Linked DNA regions of Homo sapiens. The protein of the gene in region 4 purifies or fractionates together with the protein of the main gene of each other region. This does not show direct contact. Each region holds a gene or a part of one and is shown on either strand. Other genes may lie near its edges. The genes, in order: NKTR, PNN, RNPS1 and SNIP1.

What was found.
Region 1: the proteins of SNIP1 (region 4) and NKTR purify together in Homo sapiens (affinity purification with mass spectrometry; 5 studies listed by BioGRID and IntAct, with this or other methods). This does not show direct contact.
Region 2: the proteins of SNIP1 (region 4) and PNN purify together in Homo sapiens (affinity purification with mass spectrometry; 6 studies listed by BioGRID and IntAct, with this or other methods). This does not show direct contact.
Region 3: the proteins of SNIP1 (region 4) and RNPS1 purify together in Homo sapiens (affinity purification with mass spectrometry; 6 studies listed by BioGRID and IntAct, with this or other methods). This does not show direct contact.

Annotation. Positions count from the first base shown.
Region 1 is NC_000003.12:42,631,681-42,638,715, reverse strand, and holds part of NKTR (NK-tumor recognition protein), read right to left. Parts: intron 6,116-7,035; coding exon 5,893-6,115; intron 5,156-5,892; coding exon of another isoform or gene 5,137-5,155; coding exon 4,981-5,136; exon of another isoform or gene 4,980-4,980; intron 4,104-4,979; coding exon 4,016-4,103; intron 3,496-4,015; coding exon 3,350-3,495; intron 1,849-3,349; coding exon 1-1,848. UniProt on the Homo sapiens protein: PPIase that catalyzes the cis-trans isomerization of proline imidic peptide bonds in oligopeptides and may therefore assist protein folding. Component of a putative tumor-recognition complex involved in the function of NK cells.
Region 2 is NC_000014.9:39,171,110-39,178,253, reverse strand, and holds the start of PNN (pinin), read right to left. Parts: upstream 3,001-7,144; 5' UTR 2,975-3,000; coding exon 2,862-2,974; intron 2,476-2,861; exon of another isoform or gene 2,374-2,475; intron 2,177-2,373; coding exon 2,105-2,176; intron 1,728-2,104; coding exon 1,659-1,727; intron 843-1,658; coding exon 770-842; intron 662-769; coding exon 567-661; intron 414-566; coding exon 338-413; intron 1-337. UniProt on the Homo sapiens protein: Transcriptional activator binding to the E-box 1 core sequence of the E-cadherin promoter gene; the core-binding sequence is 5'CAGGTG-3'. Capable of reversing CTBP1-mediated transcription repression.
Region 3 is NC_000016.10:2,265,122-2,272,391, reverse strand, and holds the start of RNPS1 (RNA-binding protein with serine-rich domain 1), read left to right. Parts: upstream 1-4,265; 5' UTR 4,266-4,335; coding exon of another isoform or gene 4,336-4,337; exon of another isoform or gene 4,338-6,282; intron 6,283-7,270. UniProt on the Homo sapiens protein: Part of pre- and post-splicing multiprotein mRNP complexes. Auxiliary component of the splicing-dependent multiprotein exon junction complex (EJC) deposited at splice junction on mRNAs.
Region 4 is NC_000001.11:37,533,930-37,537,309, reverse strand, and holds the end of SNIP1 (smad nuclear-interacting protein 1), read left to right. Parts: 3' UTR 1-2,861; downstream 2,862-3,380. UniProt on the Homo sapiens protein: Required for pre-mRNA splicing as component of the spliceosome. As a component of the minor spliceosome, involved in the splicing of U12-type introns in pre-mRNAs. Down-regulates NF-kappa-B signaling by competing with RELA for CREBBP/EP300 binding.

The DNA.
Region 1 (7,035 bases), on a different chromosome or scaffold from region 4:
TTTTTGTCTTTTTTCCCTTTCAATTTCTCTTTCACTTTTTTGGTGTGTTCTCTTTTAAGATTTTCCTTTGACCCATGTTTGTGCTTTTGTGGCTTTCCCCTATTGTTTTCCGAATTGGAACAGGACCCCTCAGAGTCAGAAGTTGATGTGCGCTGTTTGCTTGATTTCCAAGCACCATTATCATCAGGCAGTGAAGTATTTGTGGACGACTTGGTTGTGGGTTTGACTTTGATGTGAATTTCACTAACCTCTGATTCAGAATCGGATGTGGCCTCACCTTCTTCCTTGTCAGAGGATGGATGGGAGTCATTTTTACTGTTTTTAGTGACATCTCGTTCTGAATTTGACTCAGAGTCCCATTTACTACCAGCATAATTCTTCCTTTTGGGCTTACTGCCATTTCTAAGGTGATCAGAAAGATTCTCTTTCAAAGTTCTTTTTTTTGAATGAGGGCATTCCCGTTCAGACTTGGATTTTTCTTCACCTCTGTTTTTTTCTTGTTTATTATGTGTTCTTTCCATTTGGCCCTGCTTCTCTTTTTCCTGGGCTGACTGTGTGGCCTGAACACTTGACTGCTCACTGTCTGAAGAATAATCTAAAGATGATCTGCTCTCGCTATACTTTCTCACACATGAAGACCTGTCTCTACCTTTGACATATTTACTGTGAAGTGTCTTTTCAGAGCTGCTGCTATGCTTTTTATGTGAAACGCTATTTTTTTTCCCACTGGATCTAAGTCTCCTCTTAGCTCGCCTTCCATCATCACTGCTAATAGAAGTATATGAAGATGATCTACTACACTGTGAATGATCACTGTATTTATTTCGTGAATGAGATCTAGATGATGGAGACCTAGACCTTGAATGTGAACTAGCTAGACTACGTGATCTTGTATATGATCTGGAATAAGATCTACTCCTAGAAGATCTGCTCCTTGACCTTGGTGAGCTTTCTGAACTTCTATCACTGTATTTTGAATAAGTGCTCTGATCACTTTCCGAATTTTTTTCTCTTTTATGGTAGGATGATGAGCTACCAGTCTCTTTAATATTTGCTAAACTGTAAGTGCTTTGGATGGGTAGCAAATGGGTTGTTTTAGCTTTCATTTCCTGAATTCGCTCATAAGAGGGCTTCCAAGGTTTCTGTCCAGGCTTCCATCTTGAAGGGGGGGGACTGTCACTCAGTGGTATTACAGGAATATTTTCTGCTACAACTGGTTGTACTACTACATTTTCATTTTGTGCCATGGTTGCTCTTAAAGGTTCTGTTTTAACTGGTTTATTTTCACTTAACTGAGAAGCTGTTTTTCTTGGTGATTTTGATGCTCTCTTTCGGTGCCCAGACTTGGAACTAGATCTGGACTTTGATCTACTTCGAGAATGTGATGAGGACTTTGACGCAGTCCTTGATCTTGAGCTTCCTCTAGAATAAGACTGTGAGTGAGATTTTGATCTGTATGAGTCTCTGCTGGAATGGGTTAAAGAGCTCTGGACATCCTTATCAGATTTAGACCAGTCTCTCTTTGATGAGTGATGAGATGACAATGAGGAAGAACGAGAACTCCTTTCTCTATCACAAGAGGATTTCATTCTTCGAGTGGAAGATTTTGAGGATTCTATGTCAGACGGTATAAGAATCCTTCTCTTCTTTGTTTGTTTGTGTCTTCTGCAGTGTTTCTGCTTTTTCCCTTTCTTTTTATGCTTAACCTTTTTTTCTTTTCTGCGTTTTTTATGGTGGCCAGAGTGTCTTGCTGTACTAAGGTCTGAATAATATCCATTATAGGACCATGATCTGGATCTCTGAGACAAGCTTCTTTCATCCCATCGGCTTGAACAGGGGTCACTTAACCTATAGAAAGGACATAATATTCATGCGGTGATTTATAAGCATGTTTTCTACACCTTAAGACACAGCTTTGTTAACAACAAAGTTCTTGACCCCATTAACACTTTAAGCACACGCAGGAAGCGTGAATCAGAGTTATAGGCCTGGTCTTGTTATACTTTCAGAGACACACACTAAGAACTACTAACAAATTCACTTACAAAAGGATTTTTTTTTTAAGCTAAGCAAAGAACCTTACATTTGTTAGGAAAATGTTTTTGAAAAGCAAACCAACTAATCACAAGAACACTGCTGAACTCAAATCACAAGAGTTCCTGGCTGTTATCTGCTCACAACCCTCTGCCTCTAGGACAGTTTTTGAGGGTGAGTCAAACCAAGGTCTCAAACAATTTGTTGATTTTCTGAAGATGCAGGATAGCTGCTTGAAACTAGCATGAAGCTTGTTTTTTCTCCACCTCAGACAGGTAATCCAGATTTCCCCTAAGACTGTAAACTACTTAAAACAGAAATTGAGGAAAAAGTACACAAAAACAGATACAGGTTACAATCTGAGTGTTAATGTCAAGGCTCAGAACTGAAAGTCCTCAGCACCACTGTGTCTGAGCCGCTTCTACACAGCAGATGCATTCCTTTTCCTCCTTTTCACAATTCCAAACCACTCTGCAGGATGTCCCCAGAGAAAAAGAGAATACTACCATGGAAGATTACACAGGGTCCCATTAGTATATTTTTCACTAGCTATTCTGGGGCCTATCCCCTTCCTAAAATAAATATTCAACTGTGGGACATCACTGAAGGTAAGAGATGTGTACACTTCTAAAAAAGCAAGTCTCTGCGATCAACAGTCAACATGAACACCGAGTGCAGGTTTTCCTATTTACCAATGAACTCATCAGTGACCTGGCTGGCTAGGAAAGAATCTGCTATATAATTTCTAAGTCCTAATTATTTTTTTTTTTTTTTGAGACGGAGTCTCGCTCTGTCACCCAGGCTGGAGTGCAGTGGCACGATCTCAGCTCACTGCAAGCTCCACCTCCCGGGTTCACACCATTCTCCTGCCTCAGCCTCTCTAAGTAGCTGGGACTACAGGCACCCGCCACCACGCCCGGCTAATTTTTTGTATTTTTAGTAGAGATGGGGTTTCACTGTGGTCCCAATCTCCTGACCTCGTGATCCGCCTGCCTCGGCCTCCCAAAGTGCTGGGATGACAAGCGTGAGCCACCACGCCCGGCCTCTAAGTCCTAATTATTTCTAAAATTGACTAAGAGGTCATTAAAAGACACAGGCTTATAGTTTTTGTTAAGGAAAACAGGATTTTGATTTAAAAGCCCAACTAGTTAACAGTACTACTTTCATCAAGTAGTCCCAAATGTATTTCCTTTGGTCACAGTCTGACTGTGAATCTTTCACTGAATCTTTAATGAAAAGTCCAGAATTGTATCCAATCCCTTTAACATTTAAAATATAACAGACACAGGATTGTGCTTATACTCAAAGTTCTTACTTATCTCCTTTACTCCATTTTTCTCCACTAGGTGGTCTATATGCTCTTAATCTCTGCATTTCCTCTTTCCAGTGAGGAGGAGTTTCACTGCTGTCATCATCATCTGACTCAGAACAGGATCTTGATCTTGGAGGTGTGTGATAGCGCTTTAAAAACAAAAACAATAGTATTTTAAAAAATGCCTCTCCACGACAGTCTGCTATGTGACAGAGTTAAGTAAAAGACCCAATCTCAGATCATCCCATCAAAGGTAATGATTGAAGTTACCAAAAGGATGGTCTAAAGTTCTTTTTTTTTTTTTTTTTTTTTAGTTTTTAACTTTTATTTTAGGTTCAGGTGAAGTTATTTCAAACAAGGCATTAAAAGAGATGGGCAAGGCTGAGATTCACCTGTAATCCACATAAAATTTTCCTTTTTAAAGTCTTAATGATTTCTCAGCATACTCACTGATGGTTTCACATGTTCCTCCTTTCATACTCAATTAAACCCATTCAAACACAGCAGTATACTTTGATCTAACAGCAATACCTTCCCATAACCATGGAAAATACAATTAGTTCCTTGAACAGATTTTGTATTATATCTAAAATTAACGCTAGGACTTTGAAAATAGGTAAAAATTTTTTATTAGATACATAATATCAAAAAAAGTCTTATCACACATACAATTGTGCCCCTTCCTTTAATCTTCCGTCCAGACTTTGATACAGATGGTTTCTGATCACTTACAATGGGTGCAACATCAGGAATCTTCCTAGGAAAAGAAGATTGTGATGAAAATTAAAAATAAGCAAAGAAGCTAGAATTTTTAATAATGAAAACACATTATGTTAAGCTATTAATTCAAAGATACATGCCATTTTGCAATAGCTTTTTAAAACAAGACAATATCAGGCTTTAAAAAATATTTAATGAACTAAATGATAACTTTATGCAGAGAGCTAATTATAAATAAGGACTCTTATACTTTTCAGCTTTCAAAATAACTCTTCATAGGGAACTTATCAATGACACCAGCCATTATGATATTTCTGTTCATGAAACATTTTCTTTCAATAATTCTAAACTTGAGTCTAACACACAAAATACATTAAATACTATTTTCTCAGACCAAATCTAAAGCGACACATTCACTTTTCCAATGCAGGAAGTAATTGTTGAACAAGTTAACAAAAGTAACTTATTTATGATACTAAATTGTATCTCCAATCATCATGCAATTAATTATGCACTATTCAAATTGGAACCCATGCTTCATCACTCAAATGGATCCAAAGAATTCAACTAACTCTCTATTCTGATAACTAAAACCTCACCCCTCTAATAAAAGGCAAAGGCAAGAAGATCAGGAATAAAATCTTTCCAGATCCCCAATAAGGGCTTCCCTGACCAACTTGCCCAACCTCCTCTCCCTGCTAGAATGTGAATTCTGAAAGGTAGGGTACATATCACTCAATAATCTGGTATCCCCCATATTTCCTACGTATCATTCATTAATCTAATACTCCCATACTATCTTTCAATGTGCTTCAAACATGGATCATGTTCCATACATGAGTGTGGAATGCAATGAGCTGACGGAACAGTGTTATCGGAGAAATAAAAATAAATAGTTTAGTCATCCTACTTACGGTTCAGGTTCTGCAGTAACAACAGGCATATCTCTTCTCAGTAAAAATCGGTTCTCAGGCACTGGAGGAATCTCTTCTGGGCGGACCACAGGTTTTTCCCTTTTAGCACTGGAATCAACTGACCTTTTTTCATTGGTATCACTCCTCTCAGAGTGACTTAGAACAAACCAAGTCACTGATTAAAATGTATAATGTTTGCATTTCATAATAAAAGCACATAAAATTAGTTACTAAAACAACAGCATAATTAACGATAGCTTACAAGTCTCACTCAAAAGAGTTATATGATTTTCACAAAGAGAACAATATCAACCCAGTGAAAAACCCAAAGACTAGAATTTTGATAGGAAAATTGTTAAATGATCCTAACTTTTTTATTTTAAGAGTTCCAGGAGGCCAGGCATTGTGGCTCACACCTGTAATCCCAGTACTTTAGGGGTCTTAGGTGGGAGGATTGCTTGAGGACAGGAGTCAGAGACCAGCCTGGTCAACATAGCGGAAGACCCTGTCTCTACAAAAAATTTAAAAATTAGCCAAGCATAGTGGTATACGCCCGTAGTCCTAGCTACTCAGGAGGCTGATGCAGAAAGATCTCTTGAGCCCAGGAGGTGGAGGATGCAGTGAGCTATAATTGTGCCACTGTATTCCAGCCTGGATAACAGAGCAAGACCCTATCTCTTAAAAAAAGAGTTCTTAGGACTATTTTCACCCGAAAACTGAAAACACACAAATCTTTGAAATGAAATGCCTATGCTACCTACTCCTAGATTTGCCAGATTTCAATTTAAAGTTTAAAAAGTGCTATCCTTTTTCAATAACAGGTAATAAAATTGAGTTTATAGAATTATACATACTTTTCCCATTCCAGAGTGTTTGTTTTTAGGTAAGAGTACATTGGTGTTTTACACGTACCCTTTTGGGTTCATTGCATGTTTATTCCTTGGCTCTTCTGAACTGCTTGCTTCCTTTCGCCTCTTTTTAGAACGTTTAACTTTTGGCCTCCTCTTATGTTTCCTCCTTCTGCTTCTCTCATGTTCAAGTTCACTTTCTGAAGATGATTCTGAAGAAGAGGAGGAATTGGAAGAGGAATCCGAGCCTTCTGAATGAGTTGGTTTCTTCCTTTTTTTCTCAAAAACTTTTAAGAAACATTAATAAAAACATTAGTACTAAATTCAGTGCCTACCTTTCAGAGTAAAAAATGTGATTACTGAATATCATAAAATATGCTTTACATACAGCAAACAAAAAATGAAATGTAGACAGTTTTTTTCAAGTTTATAATAAAATTACTGGCAAGATTGTAAGGTAGTAAGTCCCTTGTCTTTATGAAGCCTATATTCTTGTTGGGTCAAGTAACAAGAAATAGGCCCGGTGCAGTGACTCATATCTGTAATCCTAACACTGTGGGAGGCCAAGGTGAGCAAATCACTTGAGGTCAGGAGTACAAGACCAGCCTGGCCAACATGGTGAAACCATGTCTCTACTAAAAATAACAAAAATTAGCCAGGCATGGTGGTGCATCCCTATAATCCCAGCTACTCCAGAGGCTGAGGCAGGAGAATCACCTGAACCCAGGAGGCAGAGGTTGCAGTGAGCCGAGATAGTGCCACTGCACTCCAGCCTGGGTGACAGAGCAAGACTCTTGTCTCAAAAAAAAAAAAAAAAAAAAAAAAAGAATTGCATAATATGACAAATGATTAAGTGCTAAGACAGAAAAACAAAGCAGTGTAAAGGGAATAGGAAGACTAGGGGTAGTTTAACATAACATTTGAACAGAGACTTAAGAGCAAGGGACAGTGTCATGCAGATATCTTAACAAAGGGTGTTCCAGACAAAGAGAATAGGCAGCACAAAATCCCTGAGTGGTTGGCATGTCTGAAAAAAGGTCAATGTGCCTGGAAGGCAATGAATAAGGGAAAAGAGTTTAGAGAGACAGCAGAGAGCCAGACCAGCCAGGGCCTTAGAGACCACCATAAAGACTTCTGCTTTGGATGATTGAAGATGGGAGTCCTTGGAGGGTTCTGTGCAGGCGTGACATGAATGCAAACTATGGTT
Region 2 (7,144 bases), on a different chromosome or scaffold from region 4:
CCTGGCCGCTTCACATTTTCAATTCAGGATACCAACTAACTAGAACTTAGCACTTGGTACTGACTGTAATTTGTCTTTAAGGAAATGGAGACTTGAGGCTTTTTTTTTTCACATATCTAAATTTCAAGGCTATTAGCTATGATATCAACAACTGTTATATTCCAACACAATGTTTAAGTAAAGCTGTTCTATAAGAAGTTAAACCAAGTTTTTACTTGGCTTTGTTTCAGGTTTACAGTTAGGTCTTAAAAGAGCTTTAAGGATTTTTTAAAAAAAACATTAATCTACTACTTTGATAACTTAAATATATGATGCAAAACAAAACTTGGATAAATACCCTTTCAGTAGCAACAGTGGATTCTTGTTTAAATTTTTGAAGGGTACCCATCAACAAGCCAAATATTCGCCGGTTCCTAAAGAACAGAATAAGAAAATTTACTGTCAACAGGATCCATTTCATTTAAACCCATCATTTTCTAAGAAATACTACAGGATGCTTGAACAATCCCTTGATTTTCCTTATAACTGCATTATTTCACTAGAGTTTTTTTCCCCCAGGGAAATACCTTTGCTTTCCCTTTTCATCCATATTTTGATCCTGGATAAGGTCTCTACGTGTGCGCTCTTTGGAGGTAGCTACAACTGAAGACTGCAATGCTGGCTGCAGAAAAAGAAAATCTCAGTAATTTAACTAGCATATGAGTGGTGTGCTTTTAAATGTAGTAAAGTGAAGGTACTACATTCATTTAAGTTCTTTCAATCTCAATACCTTTTTAACATCATCATCCTCCGGGTCGCTTTCCTGGCGTGATTCTCTTCTGGTCCGACGCTCCCCGCCCAGCCTGTCATAGAAAATATTAATTTTTTTGAGACAGGGTTTCACTATACCACCCAGGCTGAAGTGCAGTGGTGCCACCACGGTTCACTGCAGCCTCGACCTCCCAGGCTCAAGTGATCCTCCTGCCTCATCCTCCCAAGCAGCTGGGACTACAGGCGTGAGCCAGCATGCCTGGGTAACTTTTTTGTACTTTTTGTAGGGATGGGATTTCACCATGTATCTAGGCTGTTCTCCAACTCCTGGGCTCAAGTGATCTGCTGGTCTTGGCTTCCCAAAGTGCTGGGATTACAGGGATGAGCCACTGTGCCTGGCCAAAAATTAATTTAAATGACCACTGAGGTATTTATGTAACTGCACACCAAGGGCAAATGCCCTCTCTTCTAGGACTCGTTTCCAGAAGCTTTGTTCTATCAAGTCTCCATCCCATTTTATTCTTTCCTCCAGCAGAGAAAGGATACTACAATGTGTGAACTAACGCCCAAACCAATTTTGCTCTCCTGTATTTTCTAAGTATTTCAAACTGGTTAAGTTTTTCAAGTACAAGTCAGAAAAAATGGTACTAATTGACAATTTTTCCAATTTTACTCTTCACATGACCTTTATTTGGATAAAATTTAGGTTATCATGAGTGCAGAACTGCGTTTTGAGGGAACTGATAGTCAACTGTTCAGTCAAATACCAACAGAACTTGGGGGGGGCAGGGAGTGGCATACCACTCAATTTTAATATTGCTGAAACAGAATTATTGTTAATAAACATTTATATTTGTGTGGTACCTCAGAAACTAAAGAAGCCTTCAGGAATCTTTTTTTAAACCTACCTACTGACTGCCCCTTCAAGGTCTCTCTGTTTGGCTGGGGGTCCTCCTCCACTATCTGAGAATCCACGCCTGAAATTTAAAATGTTCAACATAAAACACTTGAAATACAAGATAAATGGTATTTCCATTTGACAAGAGAATATGGTTAAACTTTCAAAAATCTTTCCAACTAAAGTAGCCTTAAACGGGCATTCATTCCAAAATGCTTTTATAGTGTTACTTTATAAGAATTAAGTTCACTCAAAATTGGTAAACTTAATATATTCTTCAACCTCCAGTTTTTCAGGATAACTATATTTATACAGAAATCTAGTCTATTACAACATTAAACAAAACAAAGACGACAAACACTGGGTTATTGATTTTATCACAGGTTTTGTTCAAACCAACATATTTAGTAAAGTACCAGTAGTTTCAGCATGAGTAAAGTCCAAAGGAAATCTTACCTCAGTAATAAACTACCACGTCCTCTACCTCCACCAGGACCAGAAAGGGCCAGCAATCTGGCTTGGATGGGCCTGTAAAAGATTTACAAATCAGTGCAAAATCATATGTAGACACACACAGTCGCACCCAAATACTTTCAGAGATGTGGATCATAAGGAGAAAAAATCACAAAAGTTCCAAAAAGATAGTTTCAAATAAATCTAAATGTCTGAAACAGGACAGGAAGTACTATTTCATTTAACTTCCTCGTTTCTCCAGGACCTGTGTCACAGAAATTATATTCACCTCGATGCCCCCACACATTAACAAGCCTGGATCAGGTCCCCATCCCGCCATCCCCGAGGAGGCTGCACGTGGACAGGAAGCTGGGGTAAGGCGGCTTGTTGCGTCCCGGCAGGGTCTCGGGGCCAGCAACGGGCCGGGTGTCCGCCGGAGCGGGAAGGGGCTTTGTGCTGCAGTTCCGGGCCTGCAGGGCCGAGAGCGGGAATCAGCAGTCCGGGTCTTCTCACAGGCCAAGAAAGCATGCCGGCGCACCCAGGCCTCGCTCTCCTTCCTCAGGGACCTGAGACCAGCGCTCTACGGAGGGGACCTGGGGCCTCTCCACCTCGGCGACAACAGGGTTTTACCCGCCGCCCCGCGAACAGGCCTCGAGGTTCCAGTCTTCTTAAGGCTGGCCGCCCTCCCCGCCCCCAATTCACCCCGACCTGAGGGCTGCCTCTCCGAGCTCCGAGTTCCGAGTTCCCGTTAGGCCCTTACCTCACGTCATTCGGATCCCGCCCGGTGAGCTTGCGAATGTTCTCATCCACGTTCTTAAGACTCTCTTTGGCCTTTTCCAGCTGTTCCTGCAAAGTTCTCACGGCGACCGCCATCTTCTCCCTGCGGCAGGCTTGAGACTGCTTTACAGGCCGAGCCGGGCTATGCCGCGCCGCCGAGGCGCGAAAGGACTGACAGCCGGGCTCAGCCAATGACGATGAGCGTTGTCTTCCGGCCTCAACCACTCAGCGACCGGAAGGGGGAAGAACCTGCAGCCTTTGTGACTCTGAGCCAATGAAAAGTCAGCCAGGCAGTCATCTCCCTCCCCAGTTAGCTGCGGGTGCCTGGATCCCGCTGCTAGCGCAGAGTCGGGGCGGGTTTCACAATCCCTGAGTTCTCGGAGACTTAGGCTCGCGAGTCTGCAGTTCTGGCAAGGGGAGCGCGGAGTTTTCTAGGCCTTTTAACCTATGATGTAATGTGCCTTACACCGTTTTAACGTGATCACATCAGAGTGGGACTTAGCCAAGCCTCCTTTTCTTCCTTACCCTCACCTTGGTTAATGATTTAATTAGGAAAGGGCGCGGCTATTCTGTTGGTGCGCATGCTCAGAGAGGGGGTGGGCGCGTGCTTTCCTCTATTAGGTTAATTTTTTTTTTTTCACACGGAGTCTCGCTCTGTCGTCCAGGCTGGAGTGCAGTGGCACCATCTCGGCTCACTGCAACCTCCTCCTCCCGGGTTCAAGCGATTCTCCTGCCTCAGCCTCCTGAGTACCTGGGACTACAGGCGCGCGCCAACACGCCTGGCTAATTTTTGTATTATTAGAGACCGGATTCCACCATGTTGGGCAGGCTGGTCTCGAACTCCTGACCTCAGGTGATTCGCCTGCCTCGACCTCCCAGGGTGCTGGGATTACAGGCGTGAGCCACCACGCCCAGCCTGATTAGGTTAAAGTGAGAAGAGGGAAGACAAAAATGAAAACTAGTAAAAGTCATTAGTCATAATGGCTAACGTTTGTTAGGGGTTGATCTTGTTCCCGACCCTCTGTGAAACCGTCTACATGCCTTATTTCTCACAAACTGAAAGTGTGGATAAAATGCCTGTTATTACTGATAAGGAAATTGAGACTGGAGATAATATAACTGTCCTTTGGTCACGCCAGTTGAGAATCAGTCTCTGATTAGACGCTGAGCATCTATACTAGAGAAAAGAAAGCAATGGCGAGACAGACACGCAGTCATGGTTGAGTTAGCCTCTTCACCTGGCCTAGAGCTGGTTAAGACCAGACCTAAGGGAGCGGCCCTGTTGTTAGTGGTGTCTGTGTGTGTTGTCCCGCTTCTGGTTCTGCCCTACCTGCACTGCCAATGTAGGAACTAGTTTTGTTCTATAAATATATATACAAATTGAAGCTCAGAAAACATTTTTTCACAGGCCAGGCACAGTGGCTCACGCCCGTAATCCCAGCACTTAGGGAGGCTGAGGCAGGTGGATCACTTGAGGCCAGGAGTTGGAGACCAGCCTGGCCAACATGGGGAAACCCCGCCTTTACTAAAAATACAAAAATTAGCTGGGAGTGGTGGTGTACGCCTGTAATCCCAGCTACTCGGGAGCCCGGGATGCGGAGGTTGCAGTGAGCCGAGATTGCACCACTGCACTCTAGCCTGTGCGACAGAGTGAGACTCCGTCCCAAACAAACAAAAAAACAAAACACTTTCCCACAGAAACAATGCTTTAAATAATCTCAGCCAGGCATCTATCTTCCTTGTACAAAGAATTAGTGGGCCCAGTGTATTAATTAACTCAAGCTACCACTTTAATCCAGCAATCTTTTAGAGCTTCCATTGTGTATCAGCAGTAAGCTAGGGTTTGAAAATAAAGCCTAGAACAAGATAGTTGTGATTCCTGCTTCTGTGGGGTTTGTAGGCTTCCAAAGGAGCAATGATCATTCATTAGTTCAACAAATACTGAGGGCCCACTATGTGCCAGGTGCTATTCTAGGCACTTGGGTATATCAGTGTACAATAAAGATCTCTGAGCAAGTCCAGTGGATTGTGCCTGTAATCCCAGATACTTGGGAGACTGAGGTGGGAGAATCGCTACAGCCCAGGAGTTAAGACCAGCCTGGGCAACATAGCAACGATCCTGTCTCTAAAAATAAAAATTTTAAAAATTGTACTGGAGAGGCTGAGGCGGGATGATTGTTTGAGTCCAGGAGTTTGAGACTGCAGTGAGCTGTCATCACACCACTGCACTCTAGCCTGGGCAGCAGTGAGACTCTGTCTCAAAAATAAATAAATAAATAAATAAATAGTATAGCATGTTAGAAAGCGGGAAGTACTATAGGAGAAAAAAATGTAGAGATGAATAATGGGGATGAAGATTGACAATTATCTAATTCTGATTGTGAGCATACTTAGCCTCATTGATCTTATTACAGGTCTGTGTACAACCTTAGGCAGTACCTGAGGCATGAGAGTGTGATAATAGTAGAGCGTATTCAGCAAGTGTAAGAATGTTTGCATGTATGGTCGGCCCGGTAATCCCAGGATTTTGGGAGGCCTTGGTGGGCGGATCACTTGAGATTGGGAGTTCAAGACCAGCCTGGCCAACATGATGAAACCCTGTCTCTACTAAAAATACAAAATTAGTCCTGCATGGTGGCAAGTGCCTGTAGTGTCAGCTGCTTGGAAGGCTGAGGCAGAATTGCTTGAGCCCGGGAGGTGGAGGTTGCATGCAGTGAGCCAAGATCATGCCACTGCACTCTGGCCTGGGCAACAGTGAGACTCTGTCTCAAACAAAACAAAACACACACAGCTGGGCACAGTGGCTCAAGTCTGTAATCCCAGCACTTTGGGAGGCCGAGGCAGGCGGATCACCTGAGGTCACGAGTTCGAGATCAGCCTGACCAACATGGAGAAACCCCGTCTCTACTAAAAATACAAAATGAGCTGGGCTTGGTGGTGCATGCCTGTAATCCCACCTACTCGGGAAGCTGAGGCAGGAGAATCACTTGAACCCGGGAGGCGGGGTTGCAGTGAGCTGAGATAGTGCCATTGCACTCCAGCCTGGGCAACAAGAGCAAAACTCTGTCTCAAAACACACACACACACACACCACACTCACTGTCCTTGCTTCCATAGGATCTATTCCTAGGAGCCTTGGCAATTTAACTTTATGGAGAAGGATAAGTAGGATGCTGTGTTCAATAGTTAGTAGGTCCTCATTAAATAAGTTTCCTTTCTATCCAGAAACGTACTTTAAAAGCCTCATGTTATTGTGGTTGGAGAAGTCAACTTTGATAAATTGGCCATTTACTTACTTTTTGACTTGTGTGGTGGACTTGGACTCCTTTTTCTTGATGGTAGTGATGAGGGCAAGAATGTCATCTAGACATAAAGGACCTGATTTCGCATAACTGAAAATTTAGTGCTGGAAAAATTAAGATTACCATGGCAAAATACTCTTCAAAATTACACAATTTAGTGTTTTCAAAGGCTTAAGTGGAGCTTTTATGCTGGATTTACGTGATGAATGGAATAAACTGATTCAAACATTAGAAGGGACATGCTTAAAAAAAAAACCTACCACAATTAAAATTTTGGAACATGATCTTAAATTCCTGTGAAAGGGCATGAAGAGTTTGTGTGTGTGTTTCGTTTTTTGAGACGAAGTCTTGCTCTGTCGCCCAGGCTGGAGTGCAGTGGCACAATTTCTGCTCGCTGCAACCTCTGCCTCCCAGGTTCAAGTGATTCTCCTGCCTCAGCCCCCCGAGTAGCTGGGATTACAGGCACCTGTCACCACGCCCGGCTAATTTTTGTATTTTTAGTGGAGACGGGTTTTCACCATGTTGGCCAGGCTGCTCTCAAAACTCATGACCTCGTGATCCCCCCCACCCCCCGTGCCTCGGCCTCCCAAAGTGCTGGATTTTACAGGCATGAGCCACCTTGCGGTATGTTAATTTGGGGGAAAACAACAGGGACAATTGGGGAAAAATTTTGTTTTGTGAATTACCAATGGAAGAACTAATCACAGGCTAAGCAACATGCTTACGGTTGAATTTGCCAAATTTAAGATGTACATACTATGATGTAGCATGTGTATTTATTTGCACATGCAGTGGGACAATTCCTACAGTTGTCTCACACTGCTGTAGATTATTAGCAACTCCATCCTGCAGTGACATCGCTTTTCTGAATTCTATAGCACTTTTCACCTAATCCTCTGATTAGTCTGTATTTTCCGGTTCAAGTGTATCTTGTTTTTCGTTTGCTCCACTTCCCTTGTCCCTT
Region 3 (7,270 bases), on a different chromosome or scaffold from region 4:
GAGAGGGGATTCCACCAGGCCAGCCCGGGGCTTGAACCCCAGCCAGGGCAGCTGCTGTCTGCTGCCCCACCAGGTAACGCACCGACCCAGCTGCTGTTCAGCTCCCCCTCTGGGCCAGCACCATGCTCATGGCATAGGCCGGCTGGGCCCTCTGAGACCCCCACTCCCACACAGACTGGTCTGCATGGAGGCTGGTGCAGCCTGTGCCGTACAGACCCTGCCCGGCTGCACTACTGGCCAGAGCCCCCTGCAGACAGGCGGCTCGAGGGGAGCTCCACCATGCAGGAGATGGCCCAGCACTGCAGTCACTTAGGCTGCTCATCCCTCCCCGAACTGACATGTCCCTCCCTCCAGATGCCCCCCACCGCCGAACCCCAGCATGCTGGGCATGCTCTGGCCATCCCACACAGGGATCAGGGTGGGAGGGCTGGAGGCTGCCTGTCAGGGGCAAGGCCTCCTCCAGGAGGTAGGACGGGGTGGTGCAGGTGGGGTCCCCTCACCTGATGGGCCCTCGAGGCCAGGCTGTAGGCAGGCAGGAGGGGGCTGAAGCAGTGGGGTCAGGCCCGGGGAGCGGGGGCCCTGCCTTCCTTCCTCAACACACGGGGCTGCCCAGGCCCCGCTCCTGGGGCCGGGCCCACACCTCACAGACACTGGTGTTGGATGCTTCGGCTTGAAGGAGCTCCAAATGGACTAGCCGCAGCTGCCCCTGGGTCCACCTGGCCCAGGCAATACCACAGAATCACCAAGGCTCATCTAGCCATGGGCCCAAACCCAAGGCCCTAAGAGGCACCCCGGGTGCCTCAGTCACAGTCCCAGGCAGCTCAGGTCCCAGGCGGCTCACAGTCACCATCCTTGACTTCATGGTAGCAGAAATGGAGTGCTTTGAGCTTGTGATGAGCACAGGCTCCCAACCCTGGGAGAGTTCAGACATGCCCACTGGAGAGGCCCCAGGCCCTGATGATACCCACTCCTCAGACATGCAAACCTGGAGCCAGGGAGGCCCCAATGAACTGCATACTCTCCCAACAGACCAAGCTCACCCCACACCAGCGCAAGGCCCTTTCAGACCCAGCCTGGCCACCCCCATGGACCTGGCCAGCACCTCCCCCAGCCCCACCCTCTCCAGACAGGCACCAGGCTGTGGTGACCCGCCTCTCAGCAGCTCCTCCTCTGATGCCTCCCCACGGTCCAGTCGTTACCCCCTCGTCCACCTGACTGGGCTGCGCATGGCCTCAGTGCAGAGCCAGGTTTTAGTAGTGGGTAAAAGGGCTCCCTTGCTGTGCTTTACCAGAGAATGCAACACCCCCAAAGCTCCTTCATGACCCACTGTGACCTGCAGCACCACCAAGCCCATCCTCATCCCTGTGTCCCAGGCCACCAGCCTCTGAGGGCAGGCACTGCAGGAGCCACCGGGCCACAGAGGATGGAGGCAGGGAGGACATTCTGCCTTCATGAGGGCATGCTCTCAAAGACAGAGCCGCCCCAAACTGTCAGCAGGTGACCCTCCGCTCTGGGAAGGCAAGGGGAGGAGCTCAGGGCCGTGGCCAGAGCCCACGAGAAGCCCGTGCCCAGCTCAGCAGGTGACCCTCCGCTCTGGGAAGGTAAGGGGAGGAGCTCAGGGCCGTGGCCAGAGCCCACGAGAAGCCCATGCCCAGCACTGCAGGGCTCTGGCCACTGCCTAATGCCCTCCATGAAGCCCTGCCTGCCCTTCCAGCAAACCAGGGCCCCTGAGGCTCCAGAAACCCCAGCTCCACTGCCCTCAGCCTCCATGGCCTTAGCAGCCTGGCTCTGGGGCTGAGCTCCTGGAAGGGCAGGGTGGGGGTAGGCTCCTGAGTTTTATTTTCTCACATTTCTTCCAGACATGCTTCTGCTGATCCTCAAAATGGCAAAAGCCAGGATGCTCAATTCTCAAAGCTCAACAGCTGATGGCACATTTGATAACAAAAATCAGTAATATTTAGAAACAAATTTGATTAAATTCGTAAGTGCCTGAATAAATCATACTTGTAGATTTAATATAAAATGTGTGAAAGCTTATTCGCAGGCCAAATGACATTACTGCAGAGCATTAAAAACCAGCAGGGGGAGGGCTGTCGGCCCAGCTGGTGCTGCGTCACGCCCACCCATGTCATGTGGGGTCACCAGGCTGCCCCTGCCCACCAGGTGTCAGTGGGGCCCTGGGCATGGGCTCTAGGTTTGGGGCCTTTTAGCACCTCTGACCACTGGACTCCAATGCCACCTCAGAGAATTCCGCCTATGCCTGCCTGGACCACCGAGGCTGCCCCCTCCCCTAGCGCCGACTCTGGGGCCCCTTCAGCAGGGGGGCGGCCCCTCTGTTCCACTTAATCTTCCATGCCTGGGCACAGCAGGTGTGACAGTAATGCAGAGACTCTAACTCACTTTACATGTCATCAAACCCAAATCCAACGGGTACCCAAACCAGACTGATGGGCCTGCCAGCCTCCACCCACAGGAACACACTGGTGACTTACTGCAGCAGACTCGGGAGGTAGCTCCTCCTCCTAGCTGCCTTTGTCCCCAACTCCTTGGACATCCCTTAGCCCAGGGTGAAGGGTCAAGGGCACACTTGACACCCTCGGACAGGGCCAGAGGGAGTGGGTCTCGGCAGGAAGTCACCAAGAGCTGGCTTCCCACACAGGGAAGAGGGCAGTGATGGCAGACCACATCCCCACTATCTATCCATCCATTCACCCACCCACCCACTCCGGGTCACCAAGCTGCACCCTGTCCTTTGCTCTGACATCTAAAGTCTCCAAGTCATGCTGGTTCTCTCCTCCCAAAGATCGGCTTGGATCTGTTCCCTTCTCCCTTCCTTGCTGCCACGAAGCTGTTCAGACAAAGTCTGAAGCTCAGCGCACCGTCAATCCCTCCACAAATAACCACAGGGCAACGACTGCCTGACAGGCACAGCAGAGAACAAAACCCGCCCTCGGCCGGGGGCGGTGGCTCACGCCTGTAATCCCAGCACTTTGGGACGCCCAGGAGCGAGCACTTTGGGAGGCCAAGGCGAACCTAGGAGCGGATCACGAGGTCAGGAGTTCTCGACCAGTCTGGCCAACATAGTGAAACCCTGTCTCTACCAGAAAAATACAAAAAAAATTAGCCGGGTGTGGTAGTGTGCGCCTGTAATCCCAGCTACTCGGGAGGCTGAGGCAGGAGAATCGCTTGAACCCGGGAGGCGGAGGTTGCAGTGAGCCGAGATCGCGCCGCTGCACTCCAGCCTGGGCAACAGTGCGAGACTCTGTCAAAAAAAAAAAAAAATCCGCCCCGTCAGTGTGGGGAGTTGACGCGGAGCCTCCTGCCTGCACCCCTACAGCGTCACCCCCTCCTCTGTCCCTGCCAGAGGCGCCACCTCTGGACTCTCCCAGGGTCGGACCCTGGTCGACAGTGCTCCCTGCCCGGACCCTGCACCGGCCGATGGATGAAGCCTCGGCGCTGCGCCGTTCACACGCTCCGTGCCGCTGCCGCGAAGCTCGCGCGGGCCTGCGAGCCGGTACCCGGGCCTCCCTTCCCTGCTTCCAGCGAACCTCGGCGCCTGCTGTTCCCCCGCCGGGCGCGCCCTTCCATTCGGGTCTCAGCGGCAGTGTCACCTCCCCGGAGAGGCCCGCCGTTGCACCCCATCTCCCACTCTCAAGCTCGTCGCTCTTCCTGCCCGCACAGCCCGCCTGCCGCGCCCACCCGGTGGAGGTCCGCCTGCCGGGAGGCCGCGTCCACGGGAACACCCCAAACGCCACCAGTGGATTTTGACCGCACGAACGCACGCCCTGCCCCAGCCCGTCTCTCCGAGCTACTTCCGCCCTGCGGGCCCCCACGCCCCGCCACGCACGGCCGCAGAGCCTGCGAACCCCTCCTGTGCTACCACCCCGCCGGCCTCAGCACAGCCCGGCCCGGAGCCCCGCCTCCACCGCCGGCGACAGGGGCCGGAGTCTGCCCGGGCGGGCCCAGTGCGCCCGCGCAAGGAAAGGGGCGGGGCACGGGCGCGTTAACACCCTCCGCGCCGGAGGACGAGCCTCGGTCATCGCGCTGCCCTCCCAGGTTCAACAGGCTACCCATGTGCCCGCTCCAGTAAGCGTGCAACCAGCCCGGTCAGTCCCAGGGACTTTACCGGCTAGGAGACACCTTGAACGTCCCCAGCGCGACTCCCACAAACTGCCTTGACTCTTTAACGCTTCCTCGCTGGCGCCCATTGGGCCAGGCGTTTACGTCATCGCTGCGCGCCGGGCGGCGGCGACTTCCCGCTCCTTGACTCTGACGTCAGAGCGGCGCCGGCCTCGGCGGCTGAGGAAAGCAGGAGGAGGTGGCGGCGGCGGGAAGATGTAAGTTGGGGCGGAATCCGACTGCATCCGTGTTTCGGGGGCTGCCCGGCAGGCCCGGCAGGACGCCTCGTGAAGCCGGTCCACTCCTCAGCCCCGCAGTGCGGCGGTGGCCTGGCAGCGCGGTGCGGGCTCCGAGAAGAAAGAGTGTGGCCCGGGGCGGGCGGAGTGGGAGGTGTCGAGGCCGTGGCCCGGAAGTGGTCGGGGCCGCTGCGGACGGAAGGGCGCCTGTGCTTCGTCCGCTCGGCGGTGGCCCAGCCAGGCCCGCGGGACTCAGACCAGCGGGGAGCGCGGCCTCCGCCCTTGGGGCCCTCCCGCCGGGCCGGAGACCCAAGCCCCCAACGCCAGGCCCTGCCCTGGAAGCGCTCGCGGCCCGGCGCCTGGACGGGGGAGTTGTGAGTGAACGCGGACGGGTAGCGGCGAGGTCGGCGTGTCGGGCCGGTGTCGGCGGGCGCGGAGTTTCTTTGTGGGATGCGGTGGAAGGTCGGCCGATCCCCCCTTCGGAGTCATTAATTCAAACGTGTACTCCGCGAACGTTTCCCGGACTCCCGTGTGCAATTATCGGCGCTAGGCCGTGGGGATACGGCCCACTATGGACCGAGCACGGTGGCCGAGCTCAGTTTGATGGGTTACCCCAGAGGGGCGGATACGGGAAGGTTAAGTTTGTTGGAGGAGAAACGTGGAGTAGGCTTTTTGTCTTGATTCCGCATGAACTGTGCCTGAAATGTACTTTTAAATGGGGAAGGTGCTCTGAAGATTTGTGCCGAAACGCCCTCTCCTCGAGATTTAACTAATTGTTCTCTCCTCTCTCTGGCTGTTGGACGCGCACCTTTCCGGAGGATGGGGGAGGTAACCGAGGTCCTGAGCCGGTACCTGAACTTGGGTGAACAGAGAACCTCAACTTTTGCTTTCTAGCACTCGACCGCACCCAGCAAGGCGTCCGCTTACTCAGTGGTTCTTAGTGTTTGGAGTGCTTAAGAATAACTGGTGGTGTTTGATTTCACCAAGTACATTCGGGCAGATCTTAGTTCTTGGGGGGGTGGGGCTGGAATCTGCGGGTGTGACCTCCACTCTAGGTCTGTGCTGTCCAGCCAAGTAGCCATTGGCCACATGTGGCTGCTAAGCATGTGAAATACAGCTAATCAAGACTGAAATATTAAAACACACACCAGTTTTAGAAGACTAGGAAAAAAGCAAACTTTTATTAGATGTTTATGTTGATTATATGTTGGAAAGATAATATTTTGGATGTGTCAAACGTTAAAAATTAATTTCACCCATTTTTGTGACGTGGCTACTAAGGAATTTCAGGTGATGCTTGTGGCTCCTCACACGGTTTCTATTGGACAGTGCTGCTGCAGGTGATTCGAAGGCGGGTGGGTGCAGGAACCCAGCTGAGAGTTCAGAAATTAGTGTAACTTTGGAGACAAGTGTCTGTGGGGGAAGGAGCCTCCGGACGTGGAGATACAACTCTTGCTCCTAACATTTATCGAGTCTTTAATTAATGCCCTGGGTAACTATAAGGTTGGAACTGTAATTGTCACCATATTGATGATGAGAAACTTGAGAAAGGATAAGTGACTTGTCTAAAATCACACAGTAAAACCTCAAATCAAACCCAGGCCCTCTGGCTCCAGACTCTAAATTATACTCTGAATGATACTCACTGATTGTCCGAGGACACAAAGAGTGTCGAGGCACTATCTGCTGGGTGTCTGCAGAACCTTACTGTTCTAAAGCAAAACATTTTACCCCTGGACAAGAGCAGCAAAGGTGGCGTTCGGCCCTCCTTGGCTCTCATTTGACTGTTCAAAGCCAGGTGCTTTTCTTTCTTGGGTCAGAACGTATTTTCAGCAGCATTTTGAAGCACCCCTGGCGTGCACTGCACAGGGAAACCAGGACCACATTGGTGTGCTGTGTCCTCCTTACCAACTGGCTCTTGGAGAAGGTGAGACAGAAGTAGCTGAGACTCCATTCCTGAGATCTTCACTTAACAACTCCTGCAGCTTGTGCAGAGCCTTACTAGAAATACTGAAGGCAGAAGTCCCTGGAAAATAGGGCCCATAACTAATTAGTAATTTGTTTTTGAGTAATTTGTTACCGTTATTTGAGCACATTCTGCAGTCCAGGCATTTTGCTAAACTCTTACATGGCAGGCAGTCTCTCACGCAATTTCAATGCCTACTTTTTTTCTCCATCTTATTTTTGAAAAATGTTAAAAAAAACACAGGAAGGTCGAGTTATACAGTTAATACTCACATAAAGACCACTTAAGGGCCGGGTCTGGTGGCTCACGCCTGTAATCCCAGCACTTTGGGAGGCCGAGGTTGGCGGATCACGAGGTCAGGAGTTGGAGACCAGCCTGGTCAATATGGTGAAACCCTGTCTCTACTGAAAATACAAAAATTAGCTAGGCCTGGTGGCGTGCATCTGTAGTCCCAGCTACTCGGGAGGCTGACGCAGAAGAAATGCTTGAACCCGGGAGGCGGAGGTTGCAGTGAGCCAAGATCGCACCACTGCACTCCAGCCTGGGTGACAGAGCAAGACTCTGTCTCAAAAAAAAAAAAAAAATCAGAGGTTAATAGTCTATAAGTTACGTTTCTGCTATATTTGCTGTATGGTGTATCTAGCCACCCATCAATCTTATTTTTTCTTTAAAAGTGAATTGCAGACTTGCATGTGTCTTCCCCTGCACTCAATATGCATATTATTAAAGTACAGTGCAATAACTGCTTTTTAAAATGATTCTTCTACTGCTTTTTAGATGTTCATATGGTACATTTCATCTGCTTGCTTTTGGGTATTAAGTGTTTTGATGCTGGTACCAGTCGCTTTTGAAATGATTTTTGCTTCCAGTCACATCCAGTGTATCCTAAGGGGAAATTGCAATAAAACAGGAGATCTAATCCTATCTGGAGACCACCCTTGAGTTAGGT
Region 4 (3,380 bases):
AGAGAATCTTACTAGGCTTTGGTTATCACCAAAACAACCTCCAGTATATACCAAAGCTTTGACTTGTTTGAGCTCTTGAGCTTAGAAGTTGATTTTGCACTTATTTTTTTGGGGGGTGGGAATGTACTGCAGTCAGTAAACATTATTGACTGTTTAACTTAAACAGATGCTTTATGGCACCTGCTCAAGCCCGTGACTGTACAGAAGGATCCTGGTTGCTACCAGTGGGTGCTGATTCAGCATCACAAGTGACTGAAATTGGCTGTGGATCTGTTCTTTGTGAAAGAATTCCTGATTTCTCCATGGAGCATGTACACAACAATTTTGATCATATTAACTGTACTTCAGTTTTGCATTTTTATTCAAATGTTATCTCTTTTTTTCTTTGAGAAATAAACTGTCACTGATGTGACAGCGTTCTTTCTTTATTCTAATAACATGTATAGATCTAAAGCAGGTTGTGTTGTTTACATGTTTCTACACATTTCATCCTTTAAAAAGTTGTTGAGAGAGGTTGTATTTACCTTCCCAAGGTTGGAAAGCAGGGGAATTTCCCAGTGTCCTAGTTTTCCACCAGAGGAATATGTGTAAGTAGCAAAGTATTTGCTGCTTACATATAGTGTGTATGTATGTATATATGTAAATTGTGTGTTAAAGAGCTGATACTGATTTTCATATGACAATGTTAGGCAAAGGCCTCCCTGCATTTGAAGAGCAGGTTTTCATTTATATGTATTTTTGGGATAAAAAAATAAAATTTGTAAATATAGCCCCATTTCAAAGAGTAATGCTTTCCTAGCGTAGAGGACCTTGTGTTCATAGGTCTGTTTGCTGCTAATGGAGCCTTCTGTCAGTACTTTTGAGATAAAAGTAGGTAGCTGTTTTAGAGTGTTGTGGGGCAGGTTATATCGTTGGCCTCCAAGTCAGTGGAATAGCAGATGGTGACATGGAGGTGGGTTGTGGGGAAAGGTGGTGAAGCAGCTCAATCAGTGTTACTACTAATTGTTCCTCTTGGGTTGAGACTTAGGATACTATTAAATTTGATTGTTTTCCATTGTTTTTATACCCATGTGTGCTCAGGGCTAAAGATTGGCTAGTGGGAGGGGCAGCTGACTAATGTTCATTCAGAAGAAGTTAAAAGATCCTTTGAAAAGTGAACACTTAATAAGGTCATTAGATGAAACGTAAGTTGGGCCGGGCATGGGCACAGTGGCTCATGCCTGTAATCCCAACACTTTCGGAGGCTGAGGTGGGCAGATCATCTGAGGTCAGGAGTTCAAGACCAACCTGGCCAACATGGTGAAACCCCATCTCTACTAAAAATACAAAAATTAGCTGGGCGTGGTGGCACATGCCTGTTTTAATCCCAGCTACTCGGGAGGCTGAGGCAGGAGAATCGCTTGAACCCGGGAGGTGGAGGTTGCAGCGAGCTGAGATTGTGCCACTGCACTCCAGCCTGGGTGACAGCGAGACTCTGTCTCAGAAAAAAAAAAAAAAGGTAAGTTGAAGAATGTGTTCTACATTGGCCACTGTAACTGCTATTTTCTTCATTTTGGTATGTGCCATAGATCATATATATGTGCTTGTCTGAAAAGTAGGTTTGTTTGGATGAACTTTTCTCTTGATCCAGACTGACGGTTTTCTCTTGAGGGTTTAAGCACTAATCTGGTATCTTACTCTAGGATCTCCTTGTTCAGTCTGTGCTGCAGTAGCACTACTTTGTGGTAGCCTTGAGTTTTGCTACAAACTTCATCCTGGTGGGCACTGTGATAGATGACCACTTTGCCTACATTTTTCAGTAAGAAGTCCTAATTGTTTAGTCAGTTTTTATTTTAGTAGAGGAATAACGTCCTGGATTAAGAAATTCTTTATGCCACATATCTGAGAAGGTGGGTTTTTTTGTTGGTTTGTTTGTTTTGAGATGGCGTCTCACTCTGTCGCCCAGGCTGGAGTGCAGTGGCACCATCTTGGCTCACTGCAACCTCCGCCTCCCAGTTTCAAGCGATTCTCCTGCCTCAGCCTCCCAAGTAGCTGGGACTACAGGCACCTGTCACCAAGCCTGGCTAATTTATATATATAATTTTTATTTTTTATTTTTTTTTAGTAGAGATGGGGTTTCACCATATTGGCCAGGCTGGTCTCGAACTCCTGACCTTGTGATCCGCCCCTCTCAGCCTCCCAAAGTGCTGGGATTACAGGTGTTAGCCACCAGGCCTGGCCTGAGAAGGTGTTTTTTTTTTTTTTTGGTCTTGTTTTCCCTTACCCCTTTCTTTGAAGAAAGGGTGTCAAAAGACATTACCTGCCTCTAAAGCCAGATATCACCAGCAGACTTCTTAAAGTGGACATAATCCTAGAGCTTTCATTCTGTTTAGAAGTTCATGTTCATCTTAGCCATTTGGAACTTCTTCATTCTCTATCTTTTCTCCACGGTGGCTGGGCTTGTCTGCAAATCATTGTGTCAAAATCAAACTATTTTCAAAACAGCCCTTTGCTTCTGAGCCCCTCCCCTAAGTCCTCTGTGGGGGTCCATGATTCTGCAGAGGTATGGGACAGAATCTTCAGATTTTACCCCTTGAGTCTCTTCCTAGTCATATCCTGGTTCCCTCATTCTAATATTGACAAAGGATGACTCATTAAGTGCAACTGGTTATGTAACTTTCAAATACTTTCATTGTGTATGTCAGGATCTGAGGAACAAAATGATGTCATTTAATCGGAATCTAAACGTGACACAAACAACGTGCCAGCAATACCTGCTTGTGAAATAATGTTCTGAGCCCACAGTGTTCCTGGGTATGTGAGTTTATATCAAGTGAAAAGGCTGCTTAATTGACATTAAAGTTTTGGAATGTAAAGCTTCATTTGGTCTCTTGGGTAAAATTTCCAGTGTATTTATCAAATGGGAAACAATTCTAAAAACAGTTGTTCACATTTACTCTAAAGTGAATTAATCCAGTCAGCAATAGTTGCATAAGTTTATGCAGTTGGTTTACAGCTAAGTTAGAAAGGGAGCAATAGCCAGGTGTGGTGGTATGTGCCTGTAGTCCCAGCTACTTGGGAGGCTGAGGCAGGAGGATCACTTGAGCCCAGGAGTTCAAGACCAGCCTGGGTGATATAGTGACACCTCATCTTTTAAAAAAAAAGAAAAACAAATAATTTGGAGATGGGCCGCACCTTGTGGAAGAGATGACAGTTGAGGTATACCTTAGAAAATAGTTTGATTTGGAGTCAGTAGTAAAGGAGGACATCATGCCAGACTGAGCAGTCCAGGGACTAGCAGGACTGCAGTGGACTGTGGATAAGACCCTATAAATTAAGTTGTTTACCTCAAGACCCATGACACGTCAGTGGTAAACCTGGGATGAGAAATCACCTCAGTC